Linked DNA regions of Homo sapiens. The protein of the gene in region 2 purifies or fractionates together with the protein of the main gene of each other region. This does not show direct contact. Each region holds a gene or a part of one and is shown on either strand. Other genes may lie near its edges.

What was found. The genes of interacting proteins can lie anywhere in the genome.
Region 1: the proteins of CACNB1 (region 2) and CBARP purify together in Homo sapiens (co-immunoprecipitation; 3 studies listed by BioGRID and IntAct, with this or other methods). This does not show direct contact.

Annotation. Positions count from the first base shown.
Region 1 is NC_000019.10:1,235,206-1,239,441, forward strand, and holds the start of CBARP (voltage-dependent calcium channel beta subunit-associated regulatory protein), read right to left. Parts: upstream 2,801-4,236; 5' UTR 2,551-2,800; intron 917-2,550; coding exon of another isoform or gene 896-916; coding exon 791-895; intron 714-790; coding exon 574-713; intron 361-573; coding exon 296-360; intron 186-295; exon of another isoform or gene 107-185; intron 1-106. UniProt on the Homo sapiens protein: Negatively regulates voltage-gated calcium channels by preventing the interaction between their alpha and beta subunits. Thereby, negatively regulates calcium channels activity at the plasma membrane and indirectly inhibits calcium-regulated exocytosis.
Region 2 is NC_000017.11:39,187,102-39,191,510, forward strand, and holds part of CACNB1 (voltage-dependent L-type calcium channel subunit beta-1), read right to left. Parts: coding exon 4,373-4,409; intron 501-4,372; coding exon 378-500; intron 1-377. UniProt on the Homo sapiens protein: Regulatory subunit of L-type calcium channels. Regulates the activity of L-type calcium channels that contain CACNA1A as pore-forming subunit.

The DNA.
Region 1 (4,236 bases), on a different chromosome or scaffold from region 2:
GGAGGGCTGCTCCTCCGGGCGGCCACGGCAGGGAGGGCTGGGGCCGCGGCACGGGCGGCCGGGCTGGCGGGGCGAGGGACACTCGTCCATCCGCTCACACACTCACTCGCTCAGCACGCGCCTGGGCCCACCTACGCCTGGGCGTTAAGGAAACAGAGATGAGTCGGAATCGAGCTGCGCCCAGTCTGGTGGGGGAGACAGACAGACACAGACGGTCAGGCAGCCCGAGGGGGCGGCGGGTGGCCGAGGGGCGGATGGACAGGCGAGCGCACAGCCAGGCTGGCCAGCACCTCACCTTGGGCTGGGTGGGTGCCGTTGTCCAGGTAGGTGGTGGTGGTCTTCTCCGCTTCCTCCATGGCCCTGGGAGAGACGTTGGGAGAGCCCAGTGGCACGGAGGGCCCAGATAGCCACAGTGGGTCTCGGCTCTTTGCCCCAAGCCAAGCCCTGCGCATCACCCAGTCTCCAGAGGCATAGCCCACCCTGTGACTCAGAAGCCAGTGAGGTAGACCCCCCACCACCCGATGGCACCCACAACCACCATGCACCTGCCCAGCCGAGGTGGGGGCCTCGCACCTGTTGAGGCGCTGGTGGACGTCCCAGCAGCGCTTGCAGAGGAGCAGGACGCCAGACAACACCACCAGCGTGCCCCCCACGAACAGCGACATCACCACCACCAGCAGCACGTAGTTGTCCAGGATGGGGTCTGGCTCTGCCTGCGGGTGTGCAGGGGGGGTCAGGTGCTGCTGGCCTGGACGACCTCCTGCCCCTCCCACCTGTCCCCTGCACCCACCGTGGGGCGTCCAGTGGCATTGTCCCACGACGTCGTCAGGGCTACTGTGGCAGTGGTGGTGGTGGTGGTGGTGGCGGCTGTGGCCATGGTGGCTGTGGGCTGCATTCTGAACTGGGGAGGAGGGCCCTGTGGGGAGGAAGCCTGGTCAGCTCCAGCTAGACCTACTTCTCCTGCAGGAGCCACTGCAGACAAGCTGGGTCTTCCCTGCAGGAGCAGGAGCCCACACAGGGGGCAGTGACTCATGGAGAGGTAGCAGAGCCGGAGGCAGCCTCCACCCGGCTTGGCTCTGCCCAGCGGGCCCCGGGGGCTCTCTCTGGACCTCCATCTCCCATCCCCATGGCGGGGGAGGAGGCCTGGCCCTCTGAGGGTGCGCCTGTACCCATCACAACTGCACACAGCCGGTGCGGCCTGTCCTGCAAGGTAGCGCCAGGCCCTGGAGCTCAGCGCTGGGCAGGGCAAGCACTCGGAGGAATGGGGACGCCAAGGCGGTGCAGCCGGCTCGAGAAGGACTCCAGACGCCCTGTCCGCCCCATCACGGGGGTGGGGGGCTACCCCCACCCCAAGAAGTTCAGCTACACCCTGGCAGGGCCCACCCGGCCATGGTTGGGTAGAGGGAGACCTCCCGCTGCCTGCGCGCCAGGGAGGGTGCAGGGGCTGGGCGCGTGCTCCCGGGTCACGACTCCGGGAGGTGGAGGTCTCCCCGGTGCTGAGTGCTGGTGGGAGTGCAAGGGACAAAGAAGGCGCATCTGTTCCCAGCCCCGGAGAAGCTGGTTCCCATGGCGACTGCGGAGCAGGCCGCGGCTGGGGGGGCGGGTTGCCAGGGAGCGGCGGGGAGGGGGCGCGGGGGCGGCGGCCTGGGGGGGGGCGGCGGCCTCGGGGGGGCGGGCGCGAAGCCGCAAGATGGCCGCGGCCGCCTCCCCGCCGTGCCCAGCCCGGGCGCCCGGAGCATCCCCGGCCGCCTTACGCTCGGGGGAAACTGAGGCGGGGCGCGGCACCAGGGAAAGGAGCCGCCTGGACGCTGTGCGGCGCAGCCGGGTGGGGAGGCCCGGGAATCGCAGGGGGTCGGGGCTGGCGCCGGGGTGCTCGGCGGCCCCAGGTCAGCACCGCACGCGCGAGACCTTTCCCGGAGCGAGAGGAGCGCACAGGCGGCAGCCGCTCCTGCCCTTCCCGGACTTCCGCCCACACGCGACAGCGGGAAACTGAGGCCCAAAGCCGGGCAGGGTCCCGGCGGGGGCTGGTGTCCTCAGCGCTCCCGGTCACAGGCTGCCCGGGCCCTGGTACTGGGGGAAGGGGCCGCATATGTAGGTCGGGAAATGAGTTCAGGCTGGAGGGGGTGGGGACAGGCGCAGGATGGTGACCGGAGGCCGGGGAAGATGGCAGGAGGCCGAGGGGAAGAGGGGGGCTCCTGGGGGAGGCGGCTGCGGGAGCCGAGGGCGGAGGTTCCCCACGGGGCAGCACCGCGCCCCCGAGCCGGCCAAGGGTGGGGATGGCGAGCCAGGGGAGGCAGGGACCCGACGCCAGGGCTGAGCCGAGACGCCATCGTCCTCGCCCGACCTCACAGGGAGAAACTGAGGCTGGGGCGGGGCCTGAGCGGGGGTCCCTCTGGAGGCAGCCGGGTGGGGGGCGCAAGGCCCGGATCTCGGTCCCCACGCCCGCCGGACTCCTCCGCGCCCTCCCTCCGGCCGCTTAGCCCACAGCCGGCTGCGATCCCCGGCCTGTCCCCCGTCCGCCCCCCGCAGCCCCGAGCCCGCCGCGCCTACCTCAGCGCCGGGACGAGCGGCCCATGGGCGGCGGGCTGGCGGCGGGCGGCTGCGTGGCGCTCGCGGCTGGCTCCGGCGCCCGGTGGCCGCGGAGCAGGCGGAGAATTTATGAATGGAGAGCGCGGCGCGGGGGAGGCCGGCGCGAGAGGAGGGGCCGCGCACGTGACCGCGTTGGCGGCGCGCCCGCTCCGCGCGCCCGGTGCTGCCCGGTCCCCGGCCCGCCGCCCCCGCTGCGCTCGCCGCTGGGTCTGGCTGGCTCCGCGCCGGCCACCGCCTCCCCTTCCCTTCCGGCGGGGCGGGGGGCGGAGCCTGCGCTCCCGGGCGCCCACTCCGCACGCGGAGCCGCCCCCCGCACCCGCCGCGGCGGCCGAGCCCCGCCCCCGGCCCATCGGCACGATTCACCTCGCCCGGTCCTGAGGTCCCAGGGACGCAGCTGGGGGTGTCCTGGAATTCACGACTCTGCAGCCCGAGGTGCGCCGCGTGCGCAGGAGGGGGTGGGGTCCGGGGGGGCACGGACTCCCCTCTCACGTTGCTTGGTCCGTGGGGGTTCTGGGGCGGCACAGCCAGGGCCCCTCGGCCACAATTCCCCTTTAAGCTGCACAGCCCAGGGTCTCTGGACACAGGCGCCCCGCCTGCTTCCCCACGCAGGTCCCCTCTGGCACTGTGGAGGACTCGCCATGCCTCTCCTGCCCCCTCCCCTGTGTGACAGCGATCACAGACCCCGGCACAAAGCTGAGCAGAGCCCATCGGGGCCCAAACGTGCACTCACAGAGGCCTGCTCCTCGTGGGGTGACATCAGAACGACACCCGCAGAAACCCAAAGCCCAAAGCTGCCCCCGCTTCTCCCTCTTAGACCATCGAACCTCATCCTGCAGATACTCAGGCCACACACCTGCCACCAGCCTGGCCCGAGCGCCACCCCAACCCCTCTGAGCCCACGCCTAACACCCCACAGCGCCTCCTCTTTCTCGTCCCAAAGAAAGGCTGACACCGCTCTGGCACGTGGCTGGCCCAGCTCAGCCTCCCCGCCTCTGCCCTTGCAGGTGCCCTGTACCCAGGCCTCTGTCCATGCAGCCAGAGATTCACCCCGGTTTCCTTCAACTCCTTCCCCAGCTTCACAGTCTCGGCGCTTCTGCTCTTGGCTTCCAGCCCATGCCTGGGTCCCCTCCTCTGCTACGTCCCTCCAAGGCCCTATGCCTTGCGCCTTGCCTGTTCCTGTGTGCTGTGGGGCCACCACTCCGATAGCTGTGAACTCCAAGGGCAGCCCCAGGGAACCTGGTGCCAGGCAAATGGGAATTGCATGGGCAAAGGTTTTGAGGCAAAAAAGTTTGCAAGTCAATGCCTGTGAAGGAAGCAGAGAAATCGTCTTGTTCCCAGCAGGACCATGACATGGGCAGGCTTCAGGGTTTTTTGTATTTCGGTTTTGCTTTTTGGAGAGACAGAGTCTCGCACTGTCGCCCAGGCTGGAGTGCAGTGGTGTGATCACGGCTCACTGCAACCTCCACCTCCCGGATTCAAGCAATTTTCCAGCCTCAGCCCGGAAGGTAGTTGGGACTACAGGTGCGCGCCATCATGCCCAGCTAATTTTTGTTTTGTTTTTTTTTGTAGAGATGGAATCTTGCTATGTTGTCCGGGCTGGTCTCGAACTTCTGGGCTCAAGAGATCCTTCTGTCTCAGTCTCCTAAA
Region 2 (4,409 bases):
AACTCCAGGACCAGCATGCTTTCTGGCCATGGACCACCCTGCCACCGGCCCAATGCAATTCTGAGAGTCCTTCTCCCCATGTGCCCACCCTACTCTACAAAGGCCGCTGGAGTAAATGCGGATACCTACATGTCCCTGGCACACCGCCATGCCAGTTCAGGCCCCCTAACAAACCCTCCCAACAACCTTCTGACCTAAGCATTACCACCTCATTTTTCCAGTAGAAAATTAAGAGGCTCAGAGAGGTGGAGAGATTTGTCTAAGGTCACACAGCAGATTCAGCCTGGCTCTGCTTGGCTCAGAAGCCTTTTGTCCACTAGCACTCTGGCTGCCTGTCTCCTGGCACCCACTTCCCTGCCCTCCCTCCAGATACCCACCTCCTTGATGTGCAGGAAGTCTTTGGGCTCGAAGGTGATGGCCACTCCCTGCACAGGCACCTCATCCCCTGGAGACGGATTGTAGCCAACATTTGTCCGCACAGCAAATGCCACTGGCTTGGTCTAGAGGAGGCACACAGGGGAGGATGGCAACTAGAGGGCAAACCACAATGTAATGTACAACTTCCTGACAGTAGTGGTGGTTACTTGGATGTTTACTTTATAATAGTTCCTTGAAATGTGTATGGACATGGGCAGGGTGTGGTGGCTCACACCTGTATTTCCAGCACGTTGGGAGGCCAAGGTACGTGGATCATCTGAGGTCAGGAGTCCGAGACCAGCCTGAACAACATGGTGAAACCCCGTCTCTACTAAAAATACAAAATTAGCCAGGCGTGGTGGTGGGTGCCTATAATCCCAGCTACTCAGGAGGCTGAGGCAGGAGAGTTGCTTGAACCTGGAAGGTGGAGGTTGCAGTGAGCCAAGATTGTGTCACTGCACTCAAGCCTGGGCAACAGGGCAAGACTCCATTTCAAAACAACAACAACAACAACAAAATGTATACTGACACTTTGGGAGGCCAAGGCAGGTGGATCGTTTGAGACCAGCCTGGCCAACATGGTGAAACTCTGCCTCTACTAAAAATACAAAAAAATTAGCTGGGCATGGTGGCACACACCTGTAATCCCAGCTACTCAGGGGGCTGAGGCATGAGAATCATTTGAATTCAGGAGGCAGAAGTTGCAGTGAGCCAAGATGGCACCACTGCACTCCAGCCTGGATGACGGAGCAAGACTCTGTCTAAAAAAAAAAAAGTCTGGGCGTGGTGGCTCACGCCTGTAATCCCAGCATTTTGGGAGGCAGAGGCAGGTGGATTCATGAGGTCAGGAGTTCAAGACCAGCCTAGCCAAGATGGTGAAACCCTGTCGCTACTAAAAATACAAAAATTAGCTGGGCGCAGTGGCAGATGCCTGTAATCCCAGTTACTTGGAAGGCTGAGGCAGGAGAATTACTTCAACCAGGGCAGCAGAGTTGCAGTGAGCCGAGATCATGCCACTATACTCCAGCATGGATGACAGAGTGAGACTCCGTCAAAAAAAAAAAATGTATACTGAATTGGCTTGTGTGGTTTTCTCCATGTATATTAACTTTTACAATAAAAAACAAGAAAGCAAAATGTGGAATTCAGCCCTCTCAGGGTAGAGGCGGGGCACTCAGGAATGAAAAGGGTTGGGGGTGGGGAAGCCCACAATGATACCCAGAAAAAATAATAATAATAGCAGGCCGGGCACGGTGGCTCACTGCTGTAATCCCAGCACTTTGGGAGGGCAAGGCAGGTGGATCACTTGAGGTCAAAAGTTCGAGACCAGCCATGACTAACATGGTGAAACTCTGTCTCTACTAAAAATACAAAATTAGCATGGTGTGGTGGCACATGCCTGTAATCTTGGCTACTTGGGAGGCTGAGGCAGGAGAAACACTTGAATCTGGGAGGTGGAGGTTGCAGTGAGCTGAGATGGTGCCACTGCACTCCAGCCCGGGCAACAAGAGCGAAACTCCGTCTCAAAAACAAAACAAAATAAATTAATTAAATAATAGTTATAGGCCGGGCGCAATGGCTCATGCCTGTAATCCCAGCACTTTGAAAGGCTAAGGTGGGTGGATCATGAAGTCAGGAGTTCGAGACCAGCCTGGCTAACATGGTGAAACCCCGTCTCTACTAAAAATATAAAAATTAGCTGGGCGTGGTGGCACGCACCTGTAATCCCAGCTACTCAGGAGGCTGAGGCAGGAGAATCACTTGAATCTAGGAGGCAGAGGTTGCAGCAAGCCAAGATCGTGCCATTGCACTCCAGCTTGGGTGATGGAGCAAGACTCCGTCTCAAAATAAAATAAAATAAAATAATAATAATAATAATAATAGCAGCCAGGCACAGTGGCTCACACCTGTAATCCCAATACTGGCTTGAGGGAAGGAGTCTGAGACCAGCCTGAGCAATATAGGGAGATCCTGTCTGTTTTGTTTTGTTTTGTTTTGAGATGGAGTTTCGCTCTTGTTGCCCATGGTGGAGTGCAATGGCGCAATCTTGGCTCACTGCAACCTCTGCCTCCTTGGTTCAAGCAATTCTCCTGCCTCAGCCTCCCAAGTAGCTGGGATTACAGGCATGCGCCATCACACCTGGCTAGTTTTGTATTTTTAGTAGAGATGGGGTTTCACCATGTTGGTCAGGCTGGTCTCAAATGCCCGACCTCAGGTGATCCACCCACCTCAGCCTCCCAAAGTGCCGGGATTACAGGCGTGAGCCACCGCACCCAGCCAGCCCTGTCGGTTTTTAAAAAATAAAAGGGGCAGCTGGGCACAGTGGCTTACGCCTGTAATCCTAGCACTTTGGGAGGCCGAGGCAGGCAGATCACCAGGTCAGGAGTTCTGAGACCAGCCTGGCCAACATGGTGAAACCCCATCTCTACTAAAAATACAAAAAAAAATTAGCCGGGCATGGTGGCGGGCGCCTATAATCCCAGCTACTTGGGAGGCTGAGGCAAGGAGAATCGCTTGAACCTGGAAGGCGGAGGCTGCAGTGAGCCGAGATCGCACCACTGTACCCCAGCCTGGGCGGCAGTGCAAGACTCCATCTCAAAAATAAATAAATAAATAAAAGGGGCTGGGCACAGTGGCCCATGCCTGTAATCCTAGCACTTTGGGAGGCCGAGGCAGGAGGATCACTTGCACCCAGGAGTTCAAGACCAGCCTGGGCAACATAGCAAGATCCCATCTCTACAAAAAATAAAAAATCAGCCAGGTGTGGTGGTATGCCTCTATAGTTCCAGGTACTCGGGAGGCTGAGATGGGAGGTCAAGGCTCCAGTGAGCTGTGATCACGCCGCTACACTCAGCCTGAGTGACAGAGAGAGACCCTGTCTCATAAAAAATAATAAATATTTAAATTTATTTATTATTATGTTTTTTGAGACAGAGTCTCGCTCTGTCACCCAGGCCGGAGTGCAGTGGTGCGATCTCAGCTCACTCCAGCCTCCGCCTCCTTAGTTCAAGCGATTCTGGTGCCTCAGCCTCCCGAGTAATTGGGATTACAGGCGTACACCACCACACCCAGCTACGTTTTGTATTTTTAGTAGAGACGGGGTTTCACCACATTGCCCAAGCTGGTCTCGAACTCCTGACCTCAAGTGATCCGCCCAACCGGGCCTCCCAAAGTGCTGGGATTACAGGCGTGAGCCACAGCACCTGGCCTAAAATTAAATTAAAAAAAACAATAATGACAGTAATGACCATTTAGTGTTCCAGGTACCATGTTACACACTTAACACATATTCTCTCATTTATATTCATCACAAAAATAAAAAATCCTCTGAAGTTAAGTGGTATTATTATCTTCCTTTTAATGTGACTTTCCTAAGATCACACAGCTATTAAGAGTCAGGACCAGGTCAGGCACGGTGGCTCACGCCTGTAATCCCAGCACTTTGGGAGGCTGAGGGGGGCGGATCACAAGGTCAGGAGATCGAGACCATCCTGGCTAACATGGTGAAACCCCGTCTCTACTAAAAATACAAAAAATTAGCCGGGCGTGGCAGCCAGAGCCTATAGTCCCGGCTACTTGGGAGGCTGAGGCAGGAGAATGGCGTGAACCCGGGAGGCGGAGCTTGCAGTGAGCCGAGATCATGCCACTGCACTCCAGCCTGGGTGACAGAGCAAGACTGCAACTCAAAAAACAAAAAAAAGAAATTTTTAGCACTTATCAAGCCCTTATTATGTGTGGAAACAGTATAATAACACGCACTTATTATACTTATTATACTGTATAAGCAGGCAGGTATTATAGCCCACATTGTGCAGGTGAAGGACAGAGGAGCAAGGTTCAGGGGTACTAGGAAGTGGCTGGGTCAAGACTTGGCCCTGGTTCTGTCTGGGCTCTCTCTACAGCCCAGGACTGGGGGAAATCATGCCAGCACAGCCCCTCCCCACATCTTTCTCACCTTGGCCTTCTCGAGCTGCGCTAATGCCTGGCGCTCT